Homo sapiens: one gene and its partner. The protein of the gene in region 2 interacts with the protein of the main gene of each other region in a biochemical or structural test. Each region holds a gene or a part of one and is shown on either strand. Other genes may lie near its edges.

Evidence for each region.
Region 1: the proteins of FBP1 (region 2) and EPAS1 form a complex in vitro, tested with the Homo sapiens proteins (one study listed by IntAct).

Annotation. Positions count from the first base shown.
Region 1 is NC_000002.12:46,356,403-46,363,427, reverse strand, and holds part of EPAS1 (endothelial PAS domain-containing protein 1), read right to left. Parts: intron 6,705-7,025; coding exon 6,620-6,704; intron 2,791-6,619; coding exon 2,672-2,790; intron 2,544-2,671; coding exon 2,338-2,543; intron 1-2,337.
Region 2 is NC_000009.12:94,636,498-94,643,885, reverse strand, and holds the start of FBP1 (fructose-1,6-bisphosphatase 1), read left to right. Parts: upstream 1-4,367; 5' UTR 4,368-4,575; coding exon 4,576-4,745; intron 4,746-7,388. UniProt on the Homo sapiens protein: Catalyzes the hydrolysis of fructose 1,6-bisphosphate to fructose 6-phosphate in the presence of divalent cations, acting as a rate-limiting enzyme in gluconeogenesis. Plays a role in regulating glucose sensing and insulin secretion of pancreatic beta-cells.

The DNA of each region.
Region 1 (7,025 bases), on a different chromosome or scaffold from region 2:
ATCTTAAGCTTAAAAAAAATCTCTTTTCTATTATGTAGGGATGCCAAGTTATTTTCTAGGACAGTAGGGTTTTCCCAGTGCTTATGGAGTTATGTTACGGATGTGCTTCATTCACCAGGGTGAAGCACGTATCTGACTTTCATCATCCCCAGCACTATATATGCTCCCAGGCTATATGGCTACGTCGGCTTGAGCCACTTCACCTCAAAGCCAGTGACACAGGGGCTATGCAGTGGGATTGTCCATGTTATCTCACAAGACTACTGAGGTACACAAAGCTGTGTCTTCTGCCCAGAATGTTCACCTGAATACAAAGACTGCATCTGATAAATAACCTTACCTATAACATGGATTCCTGCAGTGCCTGTCACTAAAAGTGCAATCTTCTTCTTGAACCACCATCATTATCACCACCACCACCACCACCACCACCACCACCACCACCACCACTACCACCACCACCACCACCACCACTAACAATTACAATAAATGGTGACTGTGTCGAAGTTCCAGGACGGAAGGCTTCATGCATGACATTTTCTCCCTATGAGGTTAGAGCATTTCTTTCTACTTATATAACTACCCACTAGCTCCAAAGGCTGTGAATCCTGGCCCTACTGTGGTCAGAACTGAAGGACAGGAATGACTCAAGGATACTTTTACAAAAGTTCTGAAATTGTGCCACAAGTGGTGGCCAACTCTAAGAAGGGGCGACCAACCAACACCAGGCCGGTCTGGAATCAGAGGAGAGAAACCCCATCCTGGAGAGGAGGGTCCCTCCCATGAAGAAACCAGATGCCCTTGGGATGTCCAGCTGATAAGAGAAAAGTGGGTAGGCCTAGGGGAGGCTGAGCAGGAGCTTTTTTTCCTGGGGTTCCATGGTTTCCTGCTAGCTGAGGAAGACAAGGCAGATTCTTGCTGATCTGGGGGTCAGATTCTTCCTCTTCCTGCCCCCCAGCCACTAACTGCCTTCAGAAGTGGTTTCAGCTCCTTGAGTTTAGTGGAAGATTTTGCTTTGGAGGAGGCCAAGGACAGGAAGTAAGATATAAGCAATAACAAGAAGCCTCACATGTGTTGTGGTGTCTGGACTTCTCAAAGTGCTTGCACAGCCATTATCTCATTTTACAGTGACCCCATGAAACAGGTTAGAAAGTGTTATCTCTATTTTGGAGAAGGGGAAACTGAGATCTGAGGGTTTCCTGAGGAGAAACCCTAGAAGATGAGAGAAGAGTGGCAAAGAGTTGGGGGTGGCAAAGAGCTGCCACAGGAACTGTCACCCTGGGACACATGGCGGCTCTAGATGCTGCAGAAAGCTGAGGTCAGGCAGGGAGATCTCTGCCAGGAAGGGCGCATGCGGGGGGTGCTGCTCAGCAAGCCCCAGTGGCGCTTACTCAAGCCAGGCCTACCCTGGGCCCAGTCTTCTGCATTTCCTTCCCTCCCTGGGGCCGGCCATTGCTCCGGGCATCTGTTCTCCCCATCTTCCTCCTCCTACCTCCCATCATCAGGCTCCACAGTCCCAGAGGCAGGGCTGGTGGGGGAGTTAGGAGCTGTAGGGTATCTAAATACTCCCTCCTATGACAACCCCAGTCTCTTCCCCACCTGCTTCAATCTTCTAAATGAGCTAAGAACCCGAGATGGCATGACATGCCTAAGCAGTCTTAGGCACTCTTTCAACAACTCTAATAAAGGTGATAATAAGAGCTAACACTGAACATTTATTACTAAATTTGAACCTAAGCCATCTAGTCCTGAAGCCCATGCTCTTAATCACTACTGTGTCTCCTAAGAGACACTGGGCCTGGCACTGGGGGGTTAGCATCTGGCTCAGCTACCTTCATCTTCTTCAAAATGGCTGGACACTGGCCGGAATGGAGTTGCATGCAGGAAGGAACAAGGCGGAGGGAAAGGCTCAGTCAGTAATGGAAGAGGGTCAGTCTCCAGGGCAGAAGCTGATGCTCCTTACTGGCCTCTGAAGCAGGAGTACAGATGGAAGTCTCTAGACTCTTTCTCCTGGGGCAGAAGACTGCCTTGAGAATTTCCTCAGGAGCCTGATACACGTATGGAGAAATATGTTCACACCACAATGATGAGAAGAGTTGCACACCAGGAAAGCTCTGCAGATGGACCCTGAGGCTCTGTCAATGGGAGACCACCAAATACAGTACCGGGAACCTCTGAGGGGCACTGATGCAATGAAACAGTGGCACAGGTCCACGAACATGCACCCGGCAATACCACGTCTATGTTCAGTTCCACACCTTTAATACAGGCACAACTCCCCACACACACAGGTAAGACCCATCTCTGCCCACAGCATACACACCCATGGCCCCCTACCTGTCATCACAGTAGGTGAACTTCATGTCCATGCTGTGGCGGCTCAGGAAGGTCTTGCTATCCAGGGGGATGTCCATGTGGGATGGGTGCTGGATTGGTTCACACATGATGATGAGGCAGGACAGCAGGGGCTCCTTGTAGCCACACAGACTATTGTGAGGAGGGCAGTTGTTGTAGACTTTCACCTGGCCCGTGCAGTGCAAGACCTGAGACAGGCGTGGAAGGGTCAGACATGGAGCCGAGAGTGCTGGGGGTGGGGGTAGGGCCTTAGGCATCCCCTGCACCGCCGTTACCCTACACCTGGGACTCCAACCCAGGCCTGATGTTGCCCTACCTTCCAGGTGGCTGACTTGAGGTTGACAGTACGGCCTCTGTTGGTGACCGTGCACTTCATCCTCATGAAGAAGTCCCGCTCTGTGGACATGTCTTTGCTTTTTTTCCCAAAACCAGAGCCTGGATGTGGAAGGATGGGAAGAACCAGCTGAAGTCAGTTTTATATGGATATTCATGAGAGGGGCCCAGCTGCAGTTTTTCTTGGCAGCCTATTGTTTATATTTTCCAAATATCTGCTCTCTTAGCACCTGTGGTCTGCCATCAACACTGAGCTCCATCATGGCCTGTGAACTAATGGTTCCCACTCTCAAGCTTATCTCCTCAACTGGAGCATAAACTCCCACAAGGGAGGAGCTGCTCCATCATTTGATTTCCCATTGCATCTGGAACATGGTCAGTGGTGCCTTCAGAGCAGCGACACAACGACTGCCTATCAGCCACTAACTCAGCCACCCTTTCCTGGGGCAGGCCCAGGTCTTCTCGCAGAAATTCCAAGGGACAGTCTGAGTGAGGCCACAGTTACTCCAAGGGTGTAAGCCTTCCTCACAGGTTAGAAATGTCTCTCCGACACTCCCGTCTTTCCTTTATAACCTGTCTCTCAGGAGGAATTTAACCCCTCCTGTACCCCATTTGCAAACTGCAATAGCTGTGTTCAGGATACCATGCCATTAGCTTTGTCCCTGAAGTGACATATGTATCAAGGCTCTAGAGAGAACTCTGGTACGAATCTCCTTACAGTGGACTTGGTGAGCAAGTCCACTTTATGGATTAACTCAACCTGGATCATATCCTCTCTCTCAGCAAAAATTAAATCACCAAGACCAGCAATATAGCTTACTTCCTTATAGTTGCCAAACAGCCTCCCGATTCAGAACCATTTTCCACTTTTTGTAAAACAAAGTAATGAAGAGTGCCAGCTGAATCCCACTTGTCTGTGTCTAAATCCTGCCTACACCACCATCTCTGGTACCTACTTTCAAAGATATAATCCTGCCCCCTACCCAGCATCATAGAACAATCTAGAGCCTTGTTTCGAATAGTCACACTCCTTCCTCCAGGAACAGTCACCAGCCCCTGCACTTAAACTTCCAGAGGATCTTGACTGACATATTCCTGAAGAGTTATGTGTCAAAGGAACTGTGGCACCCTTGAACAAAACTTCAACATCCTTAGGGGACCCCACTCAGTAACAGACTGAATAGTGAATTTTTTTAAAAAAGAGAGAACATTCCTTCATCACGATTATAAAACCATTTCTCCCATACCAAATTATGATTCTTGCCATTTTAATTTTCAGAGGTGGGGTTAGCATACAATGAGATATACCTGTATCTTGGGATCTGGCCCCACCACCAGGACCAGACCAGTTGTTGGGTATAAGGGGGCTGGAGGGATTCATTTGTGGCTGTTGCTGGGGTATTATTGAGGCCTCTTAACTTGCTAACCTCTGGATTCTCCCCATGCTGACATTTGATCTTTTTTTTTTTTTTTTTTTTTTTTGAGACAGAATCTTGCTCTGTCGCCAGGCTGGAGTGCAGTGGCGTGATCTTGGCTCACTGCAACCTCTGCCTCCTGGGTTCAAGTGATTCTCCTGCCTCAGCCTCCCAAGTAGCTGGGACTACAGGCACGCGCCACCACGCCCAGCTAATTTTTGTATTTTTGGTAGAGATGGGGTTTCACCATGTTGGCCAGGATGGTCTCGATCTCTTGATCTCGTGATCCACCCACCTTGGCCTCCGAAAGTCCTGGGATTACAGGCGTGAGCCACCGTGCCTGGCCTTGTTCATTCTTTCTAAACACTGCTCCACACAGATCACTCCACCCCTGCACAGAAACCTTCAATAGCTCCCCATTGTCTATGGAATAAAGTTCAAGGCCCTCCACCTGGCCTTCAAAGCCTTCCACAATCTGCCTCATGGCTTTCTTTTCCTCTAGGAACTCACACTAACCCTTTAGGTCTAGATCACGAGTCCACCCATAGGCTGGCACCTTCAGTGAAGATTTGCTGTTGCATTGAGTTTGACTGATCCCAAGTCCTCAATATGCAGATCAAGAGATCTAAAGTTCTACTCAGATAATTAGAGGTCACTTGGCTGTGAATCATGGCACTTGAGAACTGAAAGGTTGTCGCCTTTGCCTAGTCCAATACCATCAATTTGAAAAGAAAGACTCTGAGGAACAGAGAAGTAGGGTACTTGCTTCTGGTCACAGACTCAAACTCAGACTATGGTCAGTGGCTGAACTGACACTAAGAACCCAAAGGCCAAAGGGTTTCTGGAGTACAGAAGAAATCAGTCTTTGGTTTTCTCAGGCTTTCTCAGGCTTCAAGCACCTACCCATGCAGAACATGAATCCTCTTTTTAGAGAGCTTTAGAAAGTCTGGTAGCCCTTTCCCCACAGAACCAGACAAGACACTGAGCAGCCTACAGGGTGCTCTCTGCCAGTGTACCCTAGGACCCAGGTGGTCTAAGGCCTGCAGAAGAGAGAGCAGAGGAGCTGGGTGAGGGAGCTGTGGCAGTGGTAGAAGAGGAGGTGGTTGTGATTCTGTACTTTGCAGGCCCAAATGTGGACTGCAGACTCAGTCTGTAATAGGGTGGAGGTGAGCCAATGAAGTGTCTGTTTTTGCAGCGTGTGTGGTAATAAGAGCCAAACCTTGTAGGCTTAGCCTCACTGCCTCTGTTATTCAGGCTGGACAAGCACAAGCCCCATGGCAGTGACAGGTGAGGTTGTTAAAGAGGACATCTAGACATGCACAGAATCTCCCCAGACCAGTGACAGAATCTCAGGTTTGGAAGGGACCTTGACAGTCATTAAGCCCCAATTCTGACCAAAGCTTCAGTCCTCTTAACAATGTCCCTATTCATGCCTTTGTTGAATGGCCACAGTTACAAGACAGGAAGCTCCACTGCCATTGCAACCATTGCAACGTGCTTTCTGCCTGTGTGGGTCCTCTCATCTACTGGCACCTGCTGGGTATCCCCATGGGTAAGGTCCTGAATGCTACATCTTTTTAAACCTCTTCTCCATCAAAACCTACTTGACCTGCGTCTCATCAGGGTACCATTTCCTGTGGTAGCTCTTCTCCAAAAGTAGCTCCAACAAGCCATGCCTTTTGACACTCATGGCTTCGTGTAGTTTCCTCCCACAATGAGCCAGGGCTGGCCTGTAACATGCTCTAACCAACAAGATGGGGCAGAAGTGATGCTCTGCCAATCTGGGGACAAAGCCTTCAGAAGGCCTGGCAGCTTCCACTTTAGTGCTTCTGGGAGCCCTAAACTGCCACGTAAGATGTCTGGCTACCCTAGAGACACCATATGGAGAGGGAGAGTCTCTGAGTCTCCATAGAGTGAGAGAACAGTCCTGTTGTCCCAGCATGCCAACTGAGTCCAGGGTTCCAGCCACCTGCCACAAGGTCCCAGACGTGTGTGAGCTATCCTGATCACCCCAGCCTAGTCTGGCCCCCAGATGACTGCAGCCCAGCTGACATCACATGGAGTACAAGACCCACCCACTGAACCCACAGAACCCTGGGAGATAATCATCAAAGCCCTATGTTATAGGTGGTTTGTTAGACAGCAATAGATAACTACAGTAGTTACTATGAGCACTTTGGCACAGACTAGTTCCTCATTGGTTTGGGTGGTGTCATTTGGCAGAGATGCTTGACTCTTGGGTGATGAAACCTCCTAGAGACAGTGTCCTAACCCAAAGGTGTCCCCTAGTAGTGGGACACCAGGCACCATGCAGGGCCAGCAGGAGATATTTCTGAGTACTGGATCCTCTCAATGCCCCAATCTCATCTCACAGGCTACATACTTAAATTTTTTAAGGACATCCATTTTTCCTGCATCACAAGGGCCATGAGCTATCTCCCTTATACCCGTAGACAAAGGGGAGGCAGATTCCCACCCAGTGGGGGCAAGAAGGAAGTAAACACAATTAAGGATACCATTTTTGAGACTCAGGTTCTCACGAATCTCCTCATGGTCGCAGGGATGAGTGAAGTCAAAGATACTATGTCCTGTTAGCTCCACCTGTTTCAAAAACAAGGTTAGGCATCATTATTCCTAACAGTGAAGTAAAAGACTCCAAGAGTAAGCTGAGCCACCTTCCAGATTTGGAGGCAGGGAGGAGACTGAATTGGGTTTTCTCATAATCCCAGTCCAGTGTCAGGTCCACAGACAGAAAGATGTAATCGGGGACTACTGATGATGACAGAGACTTGGTCTGTTAATGAGTCAGTAGAGAGCTGTCTACCAGGATGGACATGAGCAAAGCCAAACCCAATGCTTGGGGGTGGGAGCGTGGCCTGAGGCGTGTGGCCTGAGGTCAGCGAGGGTCACCGTGGGCATTTG
Region 2 (7,388 bases):
ATCCCTCTCACATACACCACTTGGCTTTTGTTTTTCTTTTTGTGTTTTTGTTAGAGACACACTCTCACTCTATTGCCTAGGCTGGAGTGCAGTGCTGTGATCACGGCTCACCGCAGCCTCGACCTCTTGGGCTCAAGTGATCCTCCTCCTTCAGCCTCTCCAGTAGCTGAGACTACAGGCATGCGCCACCACTCCTGGGTAATTTTTAAATTTTTTTAGAGACAGTGTTTTCCTTATGTTGTCCAGGCCGCTTTTAAAATTCCTGGGCTCAAGTGGTCTGTCTGCCTCGGCAACCCAGAGCATTGGGATTACAGGTGTGTGCACTGTGCCTGGCCTGTTTTTCTTTCCTGTGGCACTAACCGCCCCCACAGAGGGGAAAGTAAGCAGTGGAGCCCTGGGTTGAGGGCGGCTGTTGTAGGGGCAGGGACTGTCCACACTGTTACTTCTCCACTGCCCGCCTCCAACATAACCCCATCGTGGGAGCTGGGTGAGGAAATGCATGAGCACTGATTCTTCGCAGGATTTCGAGTGTTACACATGTGGTAATACTGCTCACATCACTTGAATCTGCAATCCCATGTGAAGTTGGAGTATGTGGCAAGAAGCAACTCTGCGAGGGTGGTGGGTGGAGGAGGGAGGGGCCCAACCCACAGGCCAGGAACCCATGTGAGGTGGCCGCCTTCCTCTGTCTCTTGCTAATACCTGGGTGATGGGCTTTATGCATCTTGACCCAGAAAAGAGCGAGTCACAATCGACCAATATGATGGAGGGGATATCACTGCACACCAGGCAAATACAGGCTCAGCTGCCAATTCCCACATCCCTCTAGCCCCTTTTGATGGCCAGGGAACTTTCTTGCTTCTGTTCACATGAAAACAACAGTTGGCCCTACCCATGTAACGAAGCAAACACTTACATACTGTGTACTTACTACATGCTGGGCACTGTTCTTAAACACTACCAGCACTGCCTGTATAATTCTCCCAGCAACCCTATGAGGTGGCTACAATCATTAGCCCCAGTTTACAGATGAGCCAATGGTTGCTTGGTGAGGTTTAGCCAATTGCACAGGCTTGCACAGCCAGTAAGTGGCCAGGCCAGGGTTTGGACCCAAGCCATGCAGCCCCAGAGTCTGTGCACTTCACCACAATGCGACGTGGCCTAGTCCCAAGGGGAATGGCTTGCCTTGTAGGCAATGAGCTGCCCATCATCGTGGGTGACAAGCAGAAGTGACTGAGCTAGACAGGGGTCTCCTCCACGTATTCAGTGTGTCCCCTGTGTGTAGCTCTGAGCTAAGCACTCTGCCAATGCCATCTCATTTCAGCCCGATGACACCACTGCCAGATGGAACCATTATTCCACTATATGGATGAACAAACTGGGTTTACAGAGATTAGGTAACTGGTCCGAGATCTCTGGCTGCTGAGGGCTGGAGCTGGGACTCAAACAAGTTTGCTTAATGCAGATCCCAAGCTCTTCACCTCTTATCAGGGATGGTGTCCAATGAGGGTTGGCTGGACTAGATGACTTTTACGGTCCTAGCCAATCCAAGATCCTGAGGGACTGAGAGTCTGGCAAGTAAAGGGGCACACTCCCCTAGTTACTAGCTCTAGCTCTCCCCTAGTAACTAGTTACTATGCCAAAAATACTAGTCATCACATTTCAGTTCTTTTTTTTTTTTTTGAGATTGAATCTCGCTCTGTTGCCCAGGCTGGAGTGCAGCGGCAGGATCTTGACTCACTGCAACTTCTGTCTCCCGGGTTCAAGCGATTCTCCTGCCTCAGCCTCCTGAGTAGCTGGAATTACAGGTGCACACCACCATGCCCGGCTAATTTTTTATTTTAGTAGAGATGGGTTTCACCATGTTGGCCAGGCTGGTCTTGAACTCCTGACCTCAAGATCTGCCCGCCTCAGCCTCCAGTTTGTTTGTTTTTCTTTTTTTTTTTTTTTTTTGAGATGGAGTTTTGTTCTTGATGCCCAGGCTGGACTGCAATGGTGCCATCTCTGCTCACTGCAATCTCCGCCTCCCAGGTTCAAGCGATTCTCCTGCCTCAGCCTCCTGAGTAGCTGGAATTACAGGCATGCACCACCATGCCCAGCTAATTTTTGTACTTTTAGTAGAGACGGGGTTTCTCCATGTTGGTCAGGCTGGTCTCGAGCTCCCAACCTCAGGTGATCTGCCCGCCTCGGCCTCCCAAAGTGAAGTGCTGGGATTACAGGTGTGAGCCAGTGAGCCGGGCCTATTTGAGTTTTTATGTTTAAGGATGTATTTCTCTTACTATTTTTTTTAACACAGGGTTTTTCCTGAAAAGTTGCCTGAGGAACAAAGAGTTAAATAAGACCCTTAAAGGATCAACTCTCTTTGCCAGGCATCTAAGTCCCCTCTGGGGCTTTGAGGAGACAGTCGCTGTCTTTCCTGGTGGTACCACCACCTTCCTTCATTCAACGCCGCCGCATCTGACAACCCTGGGCACAGGAATCTGCACCCCAGGTCTCCACGGTGAATCCAGCAGTCAATTTTCAGAGCTTGTCCTGCCTGCCCCATCCACACCGCTTGGCACATGGGTCAGCCCGCCTTTACTTACCTTCTTCATCTGGCTTCCCGGATGTCACATCTCTTGGTTTTTGGTTGGTTTTTCCAGTTGGCTTTTCCAATTTATACCTGCAGCATGGATCTCTCCTCTGAACTCCAGATACATAAATCTGTCTATTTGACATTGCCTTGGATGTCTAGAAGGCATTTCAAACTTAGCAGGTCCCACACTTAGCTCCTAATTGTCAGTCCTGCCTCCAGCACACGCCCCTCTCGGTGTTCCCCATCGCAGTCGAGGACAACTGCATTCTTCTAGTTTCTCAGGCCTCAAACCTTAGAATCATCCGAGACTCCTGTCTCTCACATATCTCATCTGTCAACGAATCCCATCAGCTCTACCTTCAAAATATGTCCAGAATCCACCACCTCCACTGCTAACACCTGGCTCACTATCTCCTAGTAACCTGGAGGGCACTGTCTTCAGTCTGATCTTCACACAGTAGCCGCAGTATGAAGACACAGGGTAGACCATGCCTCTCTTCTTCTCCAAACTCTCCAGTGGGTTCCTCCTAGTCAAAGTCAAACCTCACTTGGCCCTCTAGACCTCACCTCTGCATCCTCCCGCTGGCCTTATCTCCTCCACCTCTGACCCTTGCTAGCTCTATTTCAGCTCCACCGGTCTCCTGGCCATTCCCTGAACCTGAAACATGGTCTCCTACCCCAGGGCCTGTGCACTGGCTCTCCCGGTGAGGAAACCGCTCTCCTTCCCATCTCCACCGGCGCGTTGCATCCTTCACCTCTTTGCTCACATATCCCTTTCTCAGAGAAGCTTTTACTGAGGCCTCTGCTCACCCTCTTCTCCCCTCCACATTCCGTGTCTTCCTTTTCTATTTCGTTTCTCTCTATGGTACTTATGGCTTATGTAACAAACTAATCTATTGTTTATATATTTATTTTTACTGTTTCTCTGTGAAAACGTACACTCGAAAAGGGCAGGAGTTTTGTCTGTTTGGATCAGGCTCCACCCCTGGAAGGTAGGACAGTGTTCAGCACAGCAGGTGCTCAATAGGTGTTGTTTCGTGAATCAGCACATCAATTGCAGCATTGTGGCTACCAGGGGGTCAGGATGCGGGCGGTGGAGCCCTCTGGCCTTTGTGTGGTAGCCGAGGACTCTGTGTCAGCGACCGTTTTCCGGGAAACTTCCGGGCGAGACTCACATCTTGGAAATTCAAATACTCAATAGCTCTCGAATTCTAGGAATCTTGAGAAGAGGCCTGGATTAAGGATTCAGACGTGGGCCCTCAGATGGGTGAGAAACGGGGACTCTGTGTCTCCTAGCGGGGACAGAAGGGCCAGGTGACAGGCCAGGCAGAGTGGACGGGGCTTGGGCAGGGGGCGGGGGCAGGCAGCCACACGGGGCAGGAGCTGCAGAGCTAAAGCCAGGCCATGTGGACTGGCTGCGGGTTTCGCTGCCTAGCTGGTGGCATTGAGCAAGTTACTTAACCTTTCTGAACTTCCGTTTTATGATTTTGGAGGAAACAGTCATAGCTTTCTCTCTGGCAGAGTCCGATGGCCCGAGTCCCGCTCCACAGTGCGGGTGGAGGGCACGGAGGGGTGTGTGTGGGGGGCGACAGCCCAGGAAGACTAGGGGGCGGCAGGGCGCGTGGGGGCGGGGGTTGGGAGACCGCAGGGAGGATCCCCGACCTTGTCTGAAGATCCAAGCAGGCGGAGCCGCGGTCTGGTCCGCGGGGTAGGCGGGGCGCAAGAGTGTTCCCGGGGGCGGGGGGCCGACCCGCGTCTAAAGGTTTCCGCGATTCACCCGCCGGCGCCTGGCCTGGCCCAGTTGCACCACGAGCGCTGCGGACACTCGGGGCGGCAGTCGGTCTGTCAGTCCTCCCGCCAGGTCCCGCGGCCCGCACCTGCCGCCCGCACCTGCAGCTCCGCACCTGCGGCCAGTGCCTACTGCCCTCTCTTGCCGCCCGCACCTGCAGCCCCGCACCTGCCGCTTGCACCTGCAGCCCCGCGCTCTACCCGGTTCAAGCATGGCTGACCAGGCGCCCTTCGACACGGACGTCAACACCCTGACCCGCTTCGTCATGGAGGAGGGCAGGAAGGCCCGCGGCACGGGCGAGTTGACCCAGCTGCTCAACTCGCTCTGCACAGCAGTCAAAGCCATCTCTTCGGCGGTGCGCAAGGCGGGCATCGCGCACCTGTGAGTCGGGCCTTGGGCGGTGGGCCCCGTCCTGTCTGTCTGCCTGGGGAGCCTGCCCGGCGGGCTGACGTTGGGCCCTCTGAGCCTCCTGCCGTCAGCCTCTGTCTGTCCGTCTGATGTCTGAGCGCCTCTCTCGCTCTCTGTCTGGTAGCCCCTCTCTCCAGAAGCTGGCTCAGCCTCACTCAAGTCCTCATCTCCTCCCTTGACCTTGGAGGGGCCCACCTGGGGGTCCGTCTCACAGGTGTACACCTGATTCCATCTTGCATTCCTCTTCTCTGCCCTGAGCAGCCTGCCTCGTACCCCTCTCAGCCGGCCAAGTGTGGGCACCTGGCCTGCCCGTCATACCCGCCCTAGCCTCAGACAGGAAAGTGCTAGCTCAGGTGCCTTCCTTCCCCATTTCTTCTTTGTCCTCCTTCACTCTTTCTGCAATTAGGGACCCAAGTCAGGTTTCTAATCCAGTTATCTCTGACCTGAAACAAGACCTGTTAGGAGCGAGTGTCCCCCCCGCCCCCCCCGCAAGCAGGCTGGGAGGTCTCCTGTGTGTCCAGAGCCTTTAGGAGCAGCAGGGCTTGTGTGCAAAGGAGCTCCCGTGGGCTGCCCCTTGCTGGGACAGTTGCCATGCTGTGCCAGAAACAGGAAACACCCAGGGCTTCAAAACCCCTATCGATTTGCAATGATGGTGTGTGCAGCCTCTGCCCAATTAGTGGAAAGCTCAAAAGTGGTTTGTAGAATGGTTCTGAATGCGCTATGGAGTGCATCTCGAACGTCACTGGGCACAGGAATCATTTGGGGATCTTGGTAAGATGTGTGCCCTCCTTCCATAGCTCTGGGACAGGTCCTGAGATTCTGCATTTCTAAGAAGTTCTCCTGTGGTGGGTGCTGCCCATCAGATACTGTTTGTCTACTCATCACATTGTGAGTAGCAAGGGGTCAAGTGGAGTGGAGACTCAAAGGACCCCTTCTTGTGAGGTTTTTTGTAAGTCACACAACATCCTTTCGTTTGTGTTGGTGTGCACAGGTATTTTCTTTTTCTTTTCTTTTTTTTTTTTTTTTTGAGATGGAATTTTGCTCTTGTTGCCCAGGCTGGAGTGCAATGGTGCGATCTTGGCTCACCGCAACCTCTGCCTCCCAGGTTCAAGCGATTCTCCTGCCTCAGTCTCCCGAGTAGCTGGGATTACAGGCATGTGCCACCATGCCCAGCTAATTTTGTAATTTTTTTTAGTAGAAACGGGGTTTCTCCATGTTGGTCAGGCTGGTCTCGAACTCCCGACCTCCGGTGATGCCTTGGCCTCCCAAAGTGCTGGGATTACAGGCATGAGCCGCCGTGCGCAGGTATTTTCTAGCTAACTGATCCACACTTTTAACTGAAGTGTAACTGGGTTTTCAGATTGTCCATACACTTTACTAACATTCCCCGCACTTATGCACACTATAAAAATGACACATGATGGGCTGGGCGCGTAGGCTCTAGCCTGTCATCCCAGCACTTTGGGAGGCCGAAACAGGTGGATTGCCTGAGGTCAGGAGTTCAAGACCAACCTGATCAACATGGTGAAACCCCGTCTCTACCAAAAATTAGCTGGGTGTGGTGGCAGGCGCCTGTAATCCCAGCTACTCGGGAGGCTGAGGAAGGAGAATTGCTTGAACCCAGGAGGCAGAGGTTGCAGTGAGCCGAGATCGCATCATTGCACTCCAGCCTGCGCGACAAGAGCGTGACTTTGTCTTAAAAAAAAAAAAAAAAGACGCATGATGCTCAGAGCTGACCTGAACAAATACAACCCTGCTACTTGGGTTTGGAATGCATTTCTCCATTCTTAAAAACTCTTCTCCGCCCCGCATCCTGCAATCTAGATTCCTTTTCTTACTGGCAGGCTGTCTGGCTTTGGTCCCACAGTATGGACTGGTGGAGGTAATTCATGTAAAGGAGTGGTATGATCACATTTATTTTTGAATATTAAGCAGACATGTTAAGGAAGGTGATGACTCCATTACTGTTGCCTCTGGCCCCTCTTAATAATACATTCCTAAGGATTCTTATTTTAGAAACATACCCAGGTGAAATCTTAAGCTTTAATTTACAGCTAGTATAGGTGGCTCACAGCTTTAACTGCCTTTGAGGACCAGGGATATATTTTAAAAAGAGGGCTTGTCGACTGGGTGTGGTGGCTCACACCTGTAATCCCAGCACTTTGGGAGGCTGAGACGGGTAGATCACTCAAAGTCCAGGTGTTTGAGACCAGCCTGGCCAACATGGTGAAACCCTGTCTCTACTAAAAACACAAAAATTAGCCAGGCATGGTGGCAGGCGCCTGTAATCCCAGCTACTTGGGAGGCTGAGGCAGGAGAATTGCTTGAACCCGGGAGGCGGAGGTTGCAGTGAGCCCAGATCGTGCCACTCTACTCCAGCCTGGCGACCGAGTAAGACTCTGTCTCAAAAAAAGAAAAAAAAGGGCTTGTCATGTCTGATATTGTTTAAAAAATGTGTCAGTACCTTTCACACCCCTAGAGAGACTGAGAAATGTAAGATGTGTTTTGAGGTGTCCCACTGTCTAAGTAACCTTAGACAGTGGGACCTTGGATAGTGAGATTTTGATGGTGGGGCCTGGATGAAGCATGTTAATTTTGGCTACGTAAGGTATGCGT